2 separate regions of the Homo sapiens genome follow, and region 1 is linked to region 2. The links come from fine-mapping of genetic effects on gene expression. A gene starts in region 2. The other region holds a variant in brackets. All regions are shown on one strand. Distances are between the middles of the regions.

Region 1 (8,375 bases), 210 kb after region 2:
ATAGCATGAATTTGAATTTGGTTAGTAGTGGAGTTATATCTTCTAAGCATTCAAATTTTTTTCTATTTGGAAATAATTTCAAATATATAGAACAACCCCAAGAATAGAAATAGCACAGTGAATAATCCATGTACCCCTTACCCCAGTTCACCTAATATTAAATTTTACCTCATTTACTTTTTCATTTGTTATCTATCCATAAGACATGTGGACTGATTTTTAAAAATATTTTATAATTTATTACTGTCCTTAGTTATTTCAGTGCTCAAATTTCCTAAGATTTGGCTAGTAGGAGCTACTTCTCTAGCTCCTGTATCCTTATGACATATCTCCATAATGTGTTTTGGTTTGTTTTTGTTTTTTGAGCACTTCCTTATTTTCTTCATCTTGTACCTACCCTACCCTTGCCCTGGAATCACCCAGTTCTCCAAAGTCCCCTGGTTCCTTTTAATGGGGAATGTTATTAGAGACCAAGATGTGGGTACCAGGTGTGCTTGTACCTGCCAGAGCATCTTTGCTTCTAAGTCCTTTCAACAGGCAGACCTAGGAAATATATGCATTTCCGTACACATATTCATACACATACTTACATTGATACATACACATACTCACATATCAGCCTCTTTTAAAAATCAGACATTGGAAATCAGACTTTAAAATAAACATCTTTTAGAAATCATCAGTTCACACCTATACCTTCAATTCCAGCCTGTCCCCAGAGGGTTCTTCTCTGTTCCGTGTTTCTGTGTCCCTCCTTCCACAGCGAGAACTCTGGCTCCCAGCAGCATTAGCACATGTACTCACTGGCTAAATCCTGTAATATGTCTAAGATAGTTTCAGAATGGTCTCATCCACATCACTGCAAAAAACAAAGCTACTGAAAAGAGTTCAGCATTTGTTTGTAGTTCATCCCTCACTCCAATCCTACCCAAGACTGAGAGTATGTCGTCAAATATTCATGAGCTATTTGAATTAGTTTTGTCTTTCTCCTTCAGTCTGGTTATGGTATTCATTTGAATTACAGATTTGTTTGTTTCAAATCACTTTCAGTTTAGGGGTATTTTCCCTTCATCTCATCCTTACTGACTTAATTTTTAAAAATTTAAGGTGAAGAACATTAACATGGTTCCCAAAGTCAAAACTATAGAAAAAGGTATACTTAAGAGTGTCACTCCAACCTTGATTCCTTTGGCCTAATTCATTCCCATCCCTTGTTTTCTGCTCTTTCTTTTAGATACACCTGAGAGAAATATGCTCCTTTTATTTCCCAGTTTTTCGTGTGTAAAGGGTAGCACACTTTATTGCTTTTTTTTTTTTTTTCATCCAGGCACTTCTTATTTATCTTTTGATCAGACACACCATAACCAAAATTCTGGTTTGGAACAAGAAGACTCCTAGCATATAACAGTTGTTGGATTTTTAGTCACTTGCAAAAGTCTGTTGGTTTCTACCAATAGCTTTATTAAATAAGCTTTGTAAAACAATCTCTTAGTAATAGGATTCTTAGAATATGATGAATTCTTATGCAAAGTGGAGTAACTTTTTTCCCATCATTGCAAAGTTTGATAGAAGGTGCCTCGGACTTGAGGTGTGATTTTCAGGATCAGAGGGTCAGTTGTGATGGGAATGGGTTATTCTCAACTGAGCAGATAGTGTACAGGATTGGCAGTGGGTTTGCCAGCTCATTGCGATCACTCTGAGCCTTGGGACCCATGTGTCCTTCTATGTGTCTCCCAATCCTAACGGGTTTGTGGCAGCTTAGAGCCCATTCACAGCTAGTGCTAATTTTTCTCCCTTTGATAATTTGAGAAAGCTCTTCCATTTGCCTTTTGAATGTCTCTCTTATGTCTGGATTCAACAACTATTATACATTTGAACTTCACGTTGATACCACTCTTTGTGTTTTCAAAGCCTTACTGAATGTCTTGCTTAATTCCTGTGAAACAGCGGAACAGGTATTGTTGTGTCTGTTTGGAAGTGAGGAAACTGAAGCTCAGAACACAGCAGTGACAGAGCTAGGACTAGAAGCCAGGTCTTCAGACGAAGAGCCCAGAGTGGTGTAGGAGGGCCAAGGATTTATCTGGGTTTATCACAGGGACTCTACCTCCCTGCCCCCTTCCTCCATCCTGCCCTGTGGCCAACAGATTTCTACTGTATAAACCTCACCTCTGTCCACATCAATAAATAATACCTTCCTGCTAAATATTCAGCCATTCAGAACTGTCTAAAATCAGTTCAGAGGGTCTATATCAGCAGCTTTGTTATATGAGCTTTTGTGATAGTGACCATCATTGTGAGTGGGCCATAAACCAGGACTTGGCAGGGTTTTTTACTCCTAGGAATTTTAGTCAGAGTAGAGTTTTACTTATGCCTGCTTACCTGTGTCCCAGCAGTGGAAAATGTACAACAGTGATGCAGCTTGTTAGAAATGGGATTTTTATATTTGTAATGTTAAAAAGGCATAAAATATTACAAAAGAAAATTAGGAAGATAGTAAAAGAGTTACCCTGAGAAGCTTAAGGACGTTCATTTTATAATGTATGTAATTATACATTATAAAATGTATATAATTATATAATTTAAAAATAAAATATAATTATATAATTATAATACATTATAAAATGTATATAATGTATGTAATTATGCATTATAAAATGAATGTCCTTAAGCTTCTCAGGGTAACTCTTTTACTATCTTCATAATTTTTTTCCCAAGAACCCATATATGATATGGACCCAAAGTAAGAATACCTTGTTTGTATGTAACCATCTGAATTTAGTATTCTAAGTTCGGAATCAAAACATGCAAACAGATTTGTACTAGGATACTTTTCTGGTGAATAATAGAACTGAAGGTCCACTTTTCTTTGAGATGTATTTAAGAAAACAGATTATATAATTCATTTTCCTGCAGATACATGACATGCCAAGCCCTCTTACTGTTGCTCAGGGATGTGATTCTGGATTGAGTTGTGATTTTTTCAGAGTTCAGAGAATCATTTGGTGAATTTACCTAGAGCTGAGTTATGTATTTCCCATGTGTCAGGAAACCCCGGAGGCCTAGAAACCCCAAACCATTCTCAGGGTGTGGTACATGTGAATGGCGAGACACTGGAGTCCTTACTTCTTTGAGACAGCAGGTGTTCTTTGGGCTGGGAGGTCAGAGCACGTGTCTGGGCTCAGATCGGCTCCTGCTCACTCTCTAGATCCACAAAGCCTGGCCTCCTTCCTTATTCACAGGGGGTGGAGTGGAGACTGACAGCCCTAACAGGACCAAGGATAGGTTCCAGGGAGTCTGGAAAGTGGGGTGATTTAGAAGCTATGAGAGGGATCCTTTCTTTTTCTTTTCTTTTTTTTTTCCTTTCTTTCTTTCTTTTTTATTTTTATTTTTATTTTTTTTGAGATGGAGTCTTGCTCCGTTGCCCAGGCTGGAGTGCAATGGTGCAATCTCAGCCCGCCGCAACCTCTGTCTGAGTGGGATTCTTTCTAATTGTGGGCAGAGGGTGGCACTTGGTGAGGATTCCAGTTTCTTATCTGAAGTATTAGTGTCACTGGGTGTGCAAGCATCTGTTCAGCCCCTCGACAGCCTAGAGTTAAGAGACGGGTGTGAATATGGGGTTAGTTTTGTTGTTGTTGTTATTATTATTATTATTATTTTGGAGACAGCGTCTTGCTCTGTTGCCCAGGCTGGAATGCAGTGGCATGAACTTGGCTCACTGCAACCTCTGCCTCCCAGGTTCAAGCAATTCTCTTGCCTCAGCCTCCTGAGTAACTGGGACTGCACCACCATGCCCAGCTAATTCTTTTTATTTTAGTAGAGATGGGGTTTCACCATGTTGACCAGGCTGGTCTCAAACTCCTGACCTCATGATCCACCCACCTTGGCTTCCCAAAGTGCTGGGATTACAGGCGTGAGCCACCGTGCCTGGCTGGGGTTAGCTTTATGAAAGCAGGTCACTTCCCCATTCGTGGGTTGGGTTGGGTTGAGTTGGGTTGGGTTGGCTTATCGAGGTAGGACCCTGAAAGAGACATGCTGGCTTTGACTCGGAACAAAGGCAAGAAGGCAGACAGAAGTAACCTGTGTCAGAATCTCAAGGTCTGTGTGCAGAAACTGCATTGCTGTAACCTCACCTGCTTCCTTGGCAGCTTTTTACTAAGTCTCTAACTCACATATCTTGGCTCCTATAACAACTCACGGTTGGAGATGCAGATGGTTCCTCATATATAAAAATTGGGTA[A/G]TCGTCCACCTGACTCTCAGGCTTGCCTGAGTATGTGGGGTTTTGTATATATGCATAGTCAGAGGCTTGCACACATGGTGGAAAGTAGCATAAACACCCCACAATTGGGAACATTTACCTGTCTGCCAGATCTTTTCCAGGGCAGGTGTTCCTATAAATGGGCAGAAAATCATATGCCTCTTCCCCTCCTGCAGGGAAGACTTTTGGGGAAGACCATGACAAGTAGCAGGGGTTAAGAAAAACAGTAATGCTTCATCAGTGCTCGAGTTCCCATCTGGGAAGGGAGAACTGGGTTGTGGAGGGGGTGGGGACTGCCCTGACTCCATGCACTGCTCTGGCCCGAACCTGCAGGTGATGGGTAGAGGAGCCTAGTGTGGGCACCAGCAAGGACTGCTGCCTGCTCAGAGCTCTTGGTTTGGACAAAAGGGGTAGCACACAATATTAATGCAAAGTTTGTCCAAAAGCATTGAAGAAGTTCTAAACTTGGTACTCTTTGACCACAGCTTGGCCCATTTGGGTCCCTCCTCTTTGAGGAGGCTCTGGGGAAAGTGGGGCGTCTCTGAGTTCAGGCCCCTTGTTGGGGGGTGTCAGAGGCCTGCCATGACAGCACATGGTGTTTTGGGCCTAGGCCCCTTGAGATCGCTGTCATCGAGGGGAGTTCATTTTCTAAGAAATGATGCATGTGTGTTGGTGTGGGCTCTGCGACTCTGACCCCCATAGTCTTGCTTTGGAAGACACTGTCTTCTGTCCTGTCCAAGTGTGTGGCTCCATTGCTGTGCTCATGTGACTATACTCAGTGCTGTGTGTCCTGCCCACAAGACTGTTGTGCAGTAGGGCAGTGGCTCAGGATGCAGGTCCCCAAGGATGTCCTGATATGTGCTTGTCCTCTTTGCCTCCTTCAGAGAATTCTCAAAGGAAAGAGAGAAGGCAAAAGCACGGGGAGATTTCCAGAAGCTCCGGGAGAAGCAGCAGCTGGAGGAGGATCTAAAGGGCTACTTGGATTGGATCACCCAAGCTGAGGACATCGATCCGGAGAATGAGGAAGAAGGAGGAGAGGAAGGCAAACGAAATAGTATGTAGCGCCTTTCCTGCCCCTGGCTAGACAGACCCAGTGTGCGGTTCAGACGCCTAGCAGTAGGCCTTCCTCGACTCTGACCCAGGCTGTGAGTGGGACAGCCTCCTCCCAGCCATCTGGTCCCTTCTGCCTGCACACATCACGGAGAGAACAGGTGCATTGGTGCTGACTCTGGATTTCTGCCTGAGGTTTGGGGTTTAGAGTTGTATTTGGTAAGGTGGCTTTATAGCCAAGGAAGGTCAAACGGACCCACTGTTGGCCTGGGAAATTCAGTAAGCGCATTTCTGTGCGGGCACAGGGGTGATGAGACACATATTCTTGTACCACAGGAGAAGAAGCTGTGGTTTCCCTCACCTCAGAGTGAACAGTGTTATTGGACAAGAATTTGAAGTGCAGGGTTCCTCTTGACTCTTACTCTTAGGCCACCTGACATGGCTCCTACATGTGCTATTCATATGAAGCCATATGCTTAGCCCATCAGGGGCTGGGAGGAAACCGGCTCACCATTCTAGGCAGGTGTTAAGGGGCACGTGAGTCAGTGACAGCTGCTTTGCTGTCACCCATCGACACCCCACACTGTGACACTAAGCACCCTAGAGCACCTTCTGCAGGAGGCAAGGCCTGAGAACTCAGTCCATCACTGACATTAATTGCCATTGTCAACCACGGTGTCTCTTTCACTGCATACTTTTCCCACAGATGCGCTCTTATTCTCTCTGGGGCCCTTTGTGCCTCGGGTCAGAGTGGAAACTGGAATCCAGCAATGCATTTGACTGAGATGTCTGTGACTTGCTTCAAATCTAGAAGAGTTGGATAGGAAGGACCAAGAACGTACTTCAAGTGCACATGTCCATTGAGAGGCCTGGGGACCCGAGGCCGGCCCTACGTTGTAGAAGATGGCCGAGCAAGTCCCTGCTTGAGCAGAGCGCCTTGGATGTTTTGCTCTCAGCAAGGCCTGTTGCTGGGTACAGGGGAAACCCAGAGCTGGAGAGGATGTGGAGTGCTGCCTCCTAGGGAGAGACAGGCCTGTCACACTAAATGCAGCCCTGGGGAGCAGAGCTGCAGGGCACACATAGAGGGCAGGCACCGCCGACGAGGGATCGAGGACAGGGCTGGAGGGAGCATTTGGCCTGGGCCCTGAAGGATGGATGGATTGCAGGTGTGACCATTCAGTGTCAGAAGAAGCACCCTGACCCAGGGGACTAGCGTGAGGGAGGCGTGGAGGTGGACAAAGGCCAGGTTTCAGGGAGGAAGCAGTGGGCCCTTCAGCTGGAGCACAGAGGGTATGAAGGTCGGGGTGAGCTGCCATAGGAAGGGTGGGTGAGGTGCAATTGTGCCTCTTCTGGAGGTTGTGGAGTGTGTAAGTGGGGGCTGAGAGACCCCTGGTGGAGAGGCTTCTTGACTGAGAGGGCCCTTACCTTTCTTCAAGCCTGGGCTCTGTGCCTCCATGGGGAGGGAGTGTGTTCCGTGATCTCAGATGCCCTGGCTGGTGCAAACCAGTGTGCTGACTGGGAGTGGGCAGGGTCAGGCCTCTCTTCTCTCCCTCCCTGCTTCTTGCCAGGCTCAGGAAGGGGCCAGGACTTTAGCACCTGAGGATCAGAAGACTGAGGGAGGGTTTCTAGAGCTAACTGTTTGCTGAATGCAAGTTCAGAGTTTATAAATAGACATTCATGTGAGTCTCAGACTCAGCGATGTGCCTATGAAGTGATCAGATGTAAGAGTGTCTGCCTGTCCTCTGCACAGCTCTCCCCTTGGCAGTTGAGCCAACGTGAACCCCATGGCTTTCGTGGAGCTTCTGCACCTGCAGTATGGCAACAGGCCATGTAGGTGCAGCTTGGAGATGCCTGCACCGCTCTTTTCCCCTTCACTTGCAAACTGTAACTCAGATGCTGACCTGCCCCATCTCCCCTAAACCCAACATGTTATTTGTAAACGAGAGGAGGTATGGCCCCTTTTTCTCAGCAGAGTGTCTTTCTTTGCTAGTTTAGCTGTGTCCCCCAGGGAGCTGAGTGAGGCCTTCTTACAGGCCAGTGGCCTTTCCTCTGTTTATTTCTCCTCCTCTAGAAGTAGACAAGGTTTCGTGTTCTAGTGTTGCTAACATTAGTCGTGGTAGAGTTGTTTATAGGGCCTATGATTTGAGGATTAAGGGTTTTCATTGGATTTAAGGTGATATCTTGAGGGTTAACCATTTTATCTCAGCCCAGCATTTCCTATGACCTATCACTGTAAAAACCTGATGATGACAGAAATCAATGACTCTGCCTTTCAGAGAACTTGCCATGAGGGGAAGATGGAGAAGGAGTGGCTTAGTGTGAGAAGCTGATCCCATTGTTAAGGCCCAGCACTCTGCTGTGTGAGCCCAGGAGGGCGCGATGATTCTGGCTGGTGGGAGTGGGCAGGCTGGGGCGATGTGAGGAAGGCTCCGTGGGAGGAGCAGCCCTGGGCGGCAGAGGTTGGGGGTGGGGGCTTTTTCAAGCTGGGGAAATGGCACAAACAAGGTGTGCGAAGTGACAAATATTCAGGGCCCTTAAGTGCATTGCTCAGTAATATAATCTAGGAAAGAAACAAAACCTGTTTAAAAGCCTTGTAGATCTTCAGAATTCACTCTCACTGGGGCTCCCAAGCCCATAAAGCTGCAATGTGTCTTGGGAACATCAGCAGTATTGTTTCTGCTATGCACCGTGATGTGTGACTCAAAATGATTAACTAGCTTAACGTTTGATCCAGAATAGCAAATATTTCTGTGGTGCGCCCTTGTTCTTTATGGAGCTCGTTTTGCCAGGTGCTGGGGTTTCCTGTGGAGTGAGGCTCACAGTGCTTCCCGAGTCATCAGATTTCCAGAGCCTTGCTGATGAGGGTTTTAAATAAAGACAGAAATCTTGGCTGTGGAGGCCATGATGGGATTTAGCTGACTTGAGAGCACCAAGTCTCCTCCTCCTCTGAGGAGAGAACCTCTCTGATCACAGACCTCAGCAGCCCAGACCCTCTGGAGGAGACAGCACTGTTGAGGTTTCCCTGGGGCCTCCTGTGGCTGCCAGCCATTTTCTTCCTGTCACAGCCAGA
Region 2 (8,375 bases):
CCAAGTGTGCTACCATAAACTTTATGGGATTTTTGTAAATATCAGCTGACAATTTCTGGTGATCTATGTGGGCTTTTATGATCCTGTGCAGACTAATCAGAGTATTTAGTGCCCGCTGTGAGCATAACACTTAGCAGCAGGGAGAGGGGGTTAAGGAGGTGATCCTTGCTTAAGGACCCACACGGTGGTTGGAGAGACAGGATTTATAGCCAAGAAGCAATCACACAAGACACAAGAATGTATGTCATCAAAGGGGAAGCCAGGTGCTGCAGGCCTTTAGGGAAGGGGAGGTGGGGGTGGGGGCACACGAGTGTCCATAGCAGCAGTAGCAATCAGAGAAGTCTTCTGGAGGAGGCAGAGACTTGACCGAGGCTTTTTCAATGGAGAGGGGTTAGTGAGAGGTCAGCAAGTCAACAAGGTAGGGATTCCTGGTCAGCGAATAAACAGGAGCCAAAGCAGAGAGTCAGAAATGAGCACAGCATGTTCACAGTCTAATGAGACTGCTGACCACAGTTTAAAGTGAATGGTGCGAGATGATAAGGTTGAACGCTAGTCAGAGGAGTTTAGGTTGAATGTGGAAGGAAGGAGGAAGAAAACATTTTTTGGTCAGGGAAGTGACATGGTGTGTTTTGAACAAGATGGATTATTTGTGGGAGGAAAAATGGAGAATGGGCATCTTGTGCATGACCTGGGGTGTGAGATGGTGAGGTTCTGGACTGGGCCATCAGCAAGGTTTTTTGAAATGCAGTGCACGCAGGTAATCATGTCTGGCATGCCAGCTCAGTGCGTTCAAGTGGGAGTGCTTTATAAATAAGGTCATGGAGATTAAGACCCCACAATAGTGTGTTAGCAACATAATTGGGTTGTAGCACATGTAGCTGATTTAGAGCTGAAATCTTTTGTTTTAGCCTTTCCTCATGTCTTGTTGGCTCAGCTACTAAGTAATTGTGTGTGGTTTTGGGCGAGCTACTTAACTCCTCAGTGTCTTGGTTTTGTTGTCTGTAAAATGAGTTTTGTTTTTTTTTTTTTTTAGAGTTTTGCTCCGTTGCCCAAGCTGGAGTGCAGTGGCACAATCTCTGCTCACTGCAACCTCCACCTCCCAGGTTGAAGTGATTCTTCTGCCTCAGCCACCCACGTAGCTGGGACTTAAGGCGCACGCCACCATCCCCAGCTAATTTTTGTAATTTTAGTAGAGATGGGGTTTCACCATGTTGGCCAGGCTGGTCTCAAATTCATGGACTCAAGCCCGCCTTGGCCTTCCAAAGTGCTGGGATTATAGGCATGAGCCACTGAGCCTGGCCAAAATGAGGGTTTTATAGTACCTCGTAGGCTTGTTACGAGAATTAAATGAGTTAGTACATATAAAGTGCCTACCCTAGAACCTGGCACACAGGAAGCCTTTAAAAGATCTTATTATTTATTTATTCAGTAGTTTGCATTATCATGGGAATATAAATATTTAAATTACCCAATGGGCCAACGCATCTAGAGCTGTGCTGAATCAAGGCCCTCAAAAAAAAAAAATGCTTGCTGGAGACATCGCCAAGATGAGACTCATTCAGAAACTGGGATGGAATGTCAAAAACTCCAATTCAAGGCTGAGCAGTGGCTCATGCCCGTAATCCCAGCACGCTGGGAGGCTGAGGCAGAACTGCTTGAAGCCAGGGCTTGCAGCTTACAGTGAACTATGATCACACCACTGCACTCCAATCTGGGCAACATAGTGAGACCCTGTTTCTAAAAATAATTATTTAAAAAAAAAACCCCAAACCCTCCTGCAATACCATAAACTTGTTAAGATCTAACGCACAAAACCTGGAGACCGAAACCACAATTTAATCATGTCACTTTTGAGCTAAAACAACTTCACTGGCTCTCACTGCCAAGAAATTGAATCTGGTCTTCTTAGCCAGCCAGCCTTCCTCCACAGATTTGGGTTGGCCTTTCCAGCCTCCTCCTCCTCTAGCCCAGGGGGTCTTTGCCTCAGCCACACTGTGCTCCTGCTCATTTTTAAACACACCCACCTTGCACTTCAGTCTCCCCTGTGCCTTTGCTCTTACCCCCAAAGCTCATTCCTCATACATCATTTATGCCCTGTAAAAGTAGTCACCTGTTTTTAATAGACTTTATTTTTTTTAAGAGCAGTTTTAGGTTTACAGAAAAATTTTGCAGCAAGGACAGAATTCCCATATATTCTCTCCCCCAACAGTTTCTCCTATTAACATCTTGCATTAGTGAGCTACACTATATACACAGTTATAACACTGGTACACCCCAGTGTTATAATTGATGAACCAATATTGTGGTACTACTATTAACAAAAGTCTATAGTTTGCATTAGGGTTTATGCTTTGTGGTGTACAGTCCAACGGGTTTTTGACAAACGCATAATGTCCTACGTCCATCATGGCAGTATCATAAAGAATAGCTTCACTGCCCTAGAATTCCCTGTATGCCACCTATTCATCCCTCTTTCTCCCGGTCAGTTTTTAAGAATCAGTTCAAATGCCCTCTCTTCTGTGAAAACATCTCAGTTCCCTCAGTTACAATTAATCTGTCTGATGCTTGTATAGCGCTTTTTCATACTTGTTATAGCTGCTATGTTTGCATGGTATGAAAGAAGTATACACGGCCGGGCGCGCGGTGGCTCACGGCTGTAATCCCAGCACTTTGGGAGGCCGAGGCAGGTGTATCACCTGAGGTCAGGAGTTTGAGACCAGCCTGGCCAACACGGTGAAACCCCGTCTCTACTAAAAATACAAAAATTACCTGAGGGTGGTGGCGCGCGCCTGTAGTCCCACCTATTCAGGAGGCTGAGGCAGGAGAATCTCTCTTGAACTCAACAGGCAGAGGTTACAGTGAGCTGAAACTGCATCACTGCATTCCAGCCTGGACAACAGAGTGAGCAAGACTCCGTCTCAAAAAAAAAAAAAGTATACAAACTTTTCTTCTGTCATTAGGTTGTCCTTGAGGAAGGAACTGTGCCATAGATTTGTCCTGACATCTAGACCAGACCCTTATTCTTAACCGGTGCCTTATGAATGCTGGCTGCACTGAACTGAACAATGAGCAAATATGGTTCGGCTCAGTCATCCACTAGATACAGTATTTTTCCCTCTAGACAGGAGCTGCTGTTTGCAAATCTCCCCCATTCCAAATCTGAGCCAGCAAAGGTATCATAAAACAAACTTGCTCAGGGAATTTTGTAGAAAAGGCCTCAAGAGGCAAGGCTTTAGACCAGGAGTTCTGAAAGTGACATGTGTACTTGTGAATTTCATACATGCTCCTTGGATGGGCTAGTTTCTTTGGAGGGAACCGTCTTCTATTCCCTTCAGATTTTGGATCAGAAGCAGCCATAGGAGAGGTGGCCCAGGCCAGCTTTATATTGTTACTAGACCGTAGGGCGATTTCTCGCCTCTCCAGTCTCCAAAAACAAAGCACAAAAAAGGACAAGAGCCTGGTTGTTTTCATCCTCACGGACCAGACACCCCCTCAGGAAGGCCTCTGGAGAGTCTTCTGTCTGGTCCCCAGTCTCTCTGCCCAGGTGCCCCCCAACAATTGAGGATGACTAGTGTGTTCTCTTTGGGTAAGGAGCACCTTCCCATAAACACTTATTTTTCTTAATTCACGCTGAGCTTTTACTTTATTTTCGCTTTAAAGTCACTGTTCTGAAACGTTCTAAAACGCCGTAGGAACATGCAGATAGGAACAAAAGCAAATAAATCGAATCCTGTGAAGTAACAAAGCAGACGCCCTTCTCCTAACAGGCAGCACAAAGCTAAATGAAAAATATCAGTCATCCACTAGATAAAGTATTTTCCCCTTTAGACAGGAGCTGCCGTTTGCAAATCTCCCCCACCCTAAATCCAAGCCAGCGAAGGTATCAAAAAATAAACTACTCCCTTCAGCTCCCAGACTGGAGGCAACAGTTTCAGCAGCACCGTCTATTTCCTTGAACAACACGAGCGGTTTGAAAGACCTTGGCTTTGACTTCCCTGTACCTGCCTCCAAACACACGTGGGGGCGGGGTGGGGTGGGGGGAGATATTGCCCCCCATCCCCGTTGCCTTCCGCGACGCCAGGCCAGGCGCAGGGCAGGGGAGAAGATGGGGGGCGCCCTGGATTCGCGGTTCCAGCTGCAGGCAGTTACCTGGGGTAGTGAGTGCTCTCTACAGACCCGGGCTACCCCAACCCCCCCGATTCCAGAAAGGGCCGGAGAAAAGCAGGGGGCGCCTGCCCCGCTCCGGAGCAGCCAGGGAGCCCGGCCGAGCCTTGACGAGGATGAGCTCGGAGACCGCAGCAGCTACCGCCCGCTAGCACCTGAGCTCCCAGGGGGCGGGGCCTCCTCCAGGTGTGCGCAGAGGAGGCCGGCGCGGAGTCGGGGCCGGCGCGGGAGCCCGAGCTGTCCCCCAGCCCAGAAATGCGCGGGGAGGAGCGGTTCATCCGCACCCCAGCGCCGCGGGAGACACTGGCGCCGCCTGCCTCCTCCGGGTCCCGGGGGGAGAGCGCACCGTGCGGCGCGGAGGGGGTTAACCGGGCAGCCCGCCGCTGGAGCGCGCTTAACCCTTTGGAGCCCGCAGGTCAGCCGGGCCAGGCTGGGGTGGCGGCACCCCGAGTCCCACGCGACGGCCACCCCGAGCGCGCAAGTGGTGCCGGGCAGAACCGCGCGCCGGGCTGCAGACCCGCCGGGGCGCGGCGCGGCGCGGGCCGTGGGCGGCTCGGGGCGGGCGGAGGGCGGGGGACGGCGGCGGGCGCGCAGCGTCGCCAGGGCGAAGCCGGCGTGCGGCGCGGCGCGGCGGGCGCGGAGCGAGCGGGCGGGCGAGCGCCTCCGTCCCCGGATGTGAGCTCCGGCTGCCCGCGGTCCCGAGCCAGCGGCGGCGCGGGCGGCGGCGGCGGGCACCGGGCACCGCGGCGGGCGGGCAGACGGGCGGGCATGGGGGGAGCGCCGAGCGGCCCCGGCGGCCGGGCCGGCATCACCGCGGCGTCTCTCCGCTAGAGGAGGGGACAAGCCAGTTCTCCTTTGCAGCAAAAAATTACATGTATATATTATTAAGATAATATATACATTGGATTTTATTTTTTTAAAAAGTTTATTTTGCTCCATTTTTGAAAAAGAGAGAGCTTGGGTGGCGAGCGGTTTTTTTTTTAAATCAATTATCCTTATTTTCTGTTATTTGTCCCCGTCCCTCCCCACCCCCCTGCTGAAGCGAGAATAAGGGCAGGGACCGCGGCTCCTACCTCTTGGTGATCCCCTTCCCCATTCCGCCCCCGCCTCAACGCCCAGCACAGTGCCCTGCACACAGTAGTCGCTCAATAAATGTTCGTGGATGATGATGATGATGATGATGAAAAAAATGCAGCATCAACGGCAGCAGCAAGCGGACCACGCGAACGGTGAGCAGCCAGAGCCCGGGCACCCGCTGCCAAATCCGATCCTGTCATGGTCCTCCAGCCCCCTCCCCCTTCCCCGCGGCGCTGGATGGGTTGAGGGGGTTGGAGAGGGTGCTGCCAGCTCGGTGTCGTCTACACAGAGAGGGGACATGCGTGACAGCCACTCCGCGCTCCCCTCCAGGCCCTGAATGTCAGAGTTAATTCTGCATTTGTGGGGTGGGGGCGGCCGTGGAGTGTGTGGAGCGCGGTGCAGCCGGAGGGGCGGCGAGTCGGGGTGATTCGGGTTCAGTGTCCTCGGGCTCAACTTTCCTTCAACGCCCCCGAGCGATGGCAGGAGGGCCGCAAGTCTTCAGCCGGAGCCCCCTTGCCAGCCTCTTCTCGCCTTCCACTCCTCCCCCGCCCCCTCGTTGACTAGGAAGAAGGTCCCTGGTGGCATCCGGAAAATTCTAGGATTGCCCGGTTTCGCCCTCCGCGCCGGTGGGTGAAGCACACCCATCCCCTCGCGGGGGAGGCCCGGCCTCGGTATCGGGGAAAGGGGTTCGGGTGGAGCGTGCGTTCCCGCTCCCGTCGCCGGCTGTGCACACGTCGGTAACCTAGCAATGCCCGGGGAGCCGCTGCCGCTGTGGGGCTCCCCTCCCCAGCTCTGGCCCGGGCACCACGTGCAGCTTCCACGCCGGCCGGGGCTGGGTCGAGGGAGGATGGAGCAGCTCCTGGCCAGCCCTCCCCTTTGGAGACCGCCAGTGCCCCCCAACCCCTGTCGGCTGGAAGCCTTTCCGGGTGAGCGCTCCCCTAGGGAGAAGCTTGACATGACTCGACTCGTCCCCGCTCCGATTGCCCGCCGCTCGCCCGCTTTGCCCTCTTCTCAGGCTTTCAGACCCGTGCTTGCTTTGACTCTTTACTTAGCAATAATTGGCTTTGCAAACGCCCATCTCTCTACCTTGCTGTCACCTCTCTCACTTCTGCTTCAGTGAGGAGACTGTGGCGGAAGGCGGCAGGTGCCTGGGAGATCTGCCTGGGAGATGGCCTGACCCAAAGCTGGCGGGGGCTTCGCATAGGGAGCCTCCTTGAGTTTCTGCCTTGTGTGCACCTGGATACCAACCTACACGGAGATAATTCCCTCTTAGGCCTGGAGGCCCCTGGCATAATCCAGTCAGTCTATCCTAGGTGTAGGGGTGCAGGCTGACTGCCTTGTCTGTCTCTCTGGATGCTGGCTTGGCTGATGCTGCTGCAATTTAAAATGCAAAAAAGCCCTAAAGATGTTTTCTGTTTTCGGAAGCCTGTGGAGGAAATGAGTCCCAAGCATCATGAATTTTCATTTGCAGGAAGTGTCAGTGCATAATCTAGATATTTGTTATGGGGTTTTTGGTATTGCCTGGGTGCCTATGGAAGATTTTTTTTCGGTACTGAAAAAAATGCATTTGTGGCTGTGGAAAGATGTTGGAGTAACACTCTGAAAATGATTAAGACTATTGAATTATTGGTACTGCCTTTTTTTTTCCCCTTGGTGATGGTGGTAGTTATGTTAGAGAAAAGCTGTTGTATGTATCTGTTACTCATTAGAGATAGATGGGTTTTACAAATCAGAGATGCGGAGTAAATGTGGGAATGACCTCAGTTTTGTCAGAAGAAATGCACTAAAAGACCCTTTGTGAAGACATGATGTGAAGGAGTACTAACCCCACTGGGTGTGATGCAGCGGTGATCCTGTGTGATTGACACTGAGACCAGAGCTCGTGGACTTTTCTTGACTCTCCAGCTGACTAAAGCCCAGCTTGTGAAAAATAGCACATGAGATTCAAAATGGAAACATAGGAGTGAATGATTCCCCTGTTATTGATGGGAGACAACCTTTGATTTTTTTCTCCTACCCACTGGATCCTCATTTAAAAAAAAAAATCTTTGTTTTTCTCCTTCTCCCCAGAGGCAAACTATGCAAGAGGCACCAGACTTCCTCTTTCTGGTGAAGGACCAACTTCTCAGCCGAATAGCTCCAAGCAAACTGTCCTGTCTTGGCAAGCTGCAATCGATGCTGCTAGACAGGCCAAGGCTGCCCAAACTATGAGCACCTCTGCACCCCCACCTGTAGGATCTCTCTCCCAAAGAAAACGTCAGCAATACGCCAAGAGCAAAAAACAGGGTAACTCGTCCAACAGCCGACCTGCCCGCGCCCTTTTCTGTTTATCACTCAATAACCCCATCCGAAGAGCCTGCATTAGTATAGTGGAATGGAAGTATCCTTTTTTTGGGGGAAGTCTTTCTCATTTTCTCTTTTACCATCTGTTTTTTAAAAGGATTTGCTTTCTGAAGTGACACAAAGCTGTAGCAGTCTGGAATGCGAGTAACAGAAGTTGTATATAAGGGGTTTCATTGTATATACCTTCCTGTCTCTTCGGGTTGCAGAGGGGTGGCTGTACGGGTATATTTAGCCCACTGTCTGGATGTGTGTATAGTAGTAGTAGTAGGGGGAGGGAGTGACAGCCTGAAACTTCACAGGGGCAGATAATTAAAATGTGAAACCAACCTTTGGTTATTGGACATTAGATGGTTAGTTTTAAATTCAGTGTTGTCTTTGGGCAATAGCATGCATTGAACCTATTGCAAACAAGGTATACAGATTAGAAAAAAAGACTGTATAAGACTCTGTTTGAAGGGAATACATTTTTGACCTTTAGTAGAATCTTCTCATTCTGATGTTTGAAATTTGCTTCTGCAACTACAATTAATGCTAAGGTTGCTTCTAGTCTGACATTTGGTGATTCTAATTATTCAGGTAGCTGCAGATATGAGCACATGCTTCCTAGGGAGAGATTACTTTTGATTTTTTTTCTCTGATCAGTGCTATAACTTCCTGGAATTTCCTTTTGACAAGTTCCAAAGAAGCATTTGGAACGTGAGCATGAGGGAGCCAGTGAAGGGAGAGGCTCGTGTGTGCCTCTTCCTCCTGGGCCCTTATGAGTTATAGAACAGCCTTTTCAGTGGAGGAAT

Evidence for each region.
Region 1: its variant is fine-mapped to the expression of CACNA1D in whole blood (TOPMed, PIP above 0.99).

The regions. Positions count from the first base shown.
Region 1 is chr3:53,697,502-53,705,876 of GRCh38, forward strand. It overlaps CACNA1D (calcium voltage-gated channel subunit alpha1 D), which reads left to right. Exons shown (of 48, transcript NM_001128840.3): 9 at 5,140-5,309. Among named protein-coding and RNA genes, the nearest start is that of CHDH, 140 kb to the right of the region's middle. The variant A/G (reference allele first, on the strand shown) is at 4,238.
Region 2 is chr3:53,489,841-53,498,215 of GRCh38, forward strand. It overlaps CACNA1D (calcium voltage-gated channel subunit alpha1 D), which reads left to right and starts at 4,771. Exons shown (of 48, transcript NM_001128840.3): 1 at 4,771-5,393; 2 at 7,312-7,621. The coding sequence starts at 5,327. RefSeq lists enhancers at 4,220-4,719, 5,050-5,835, 5,836-6,620.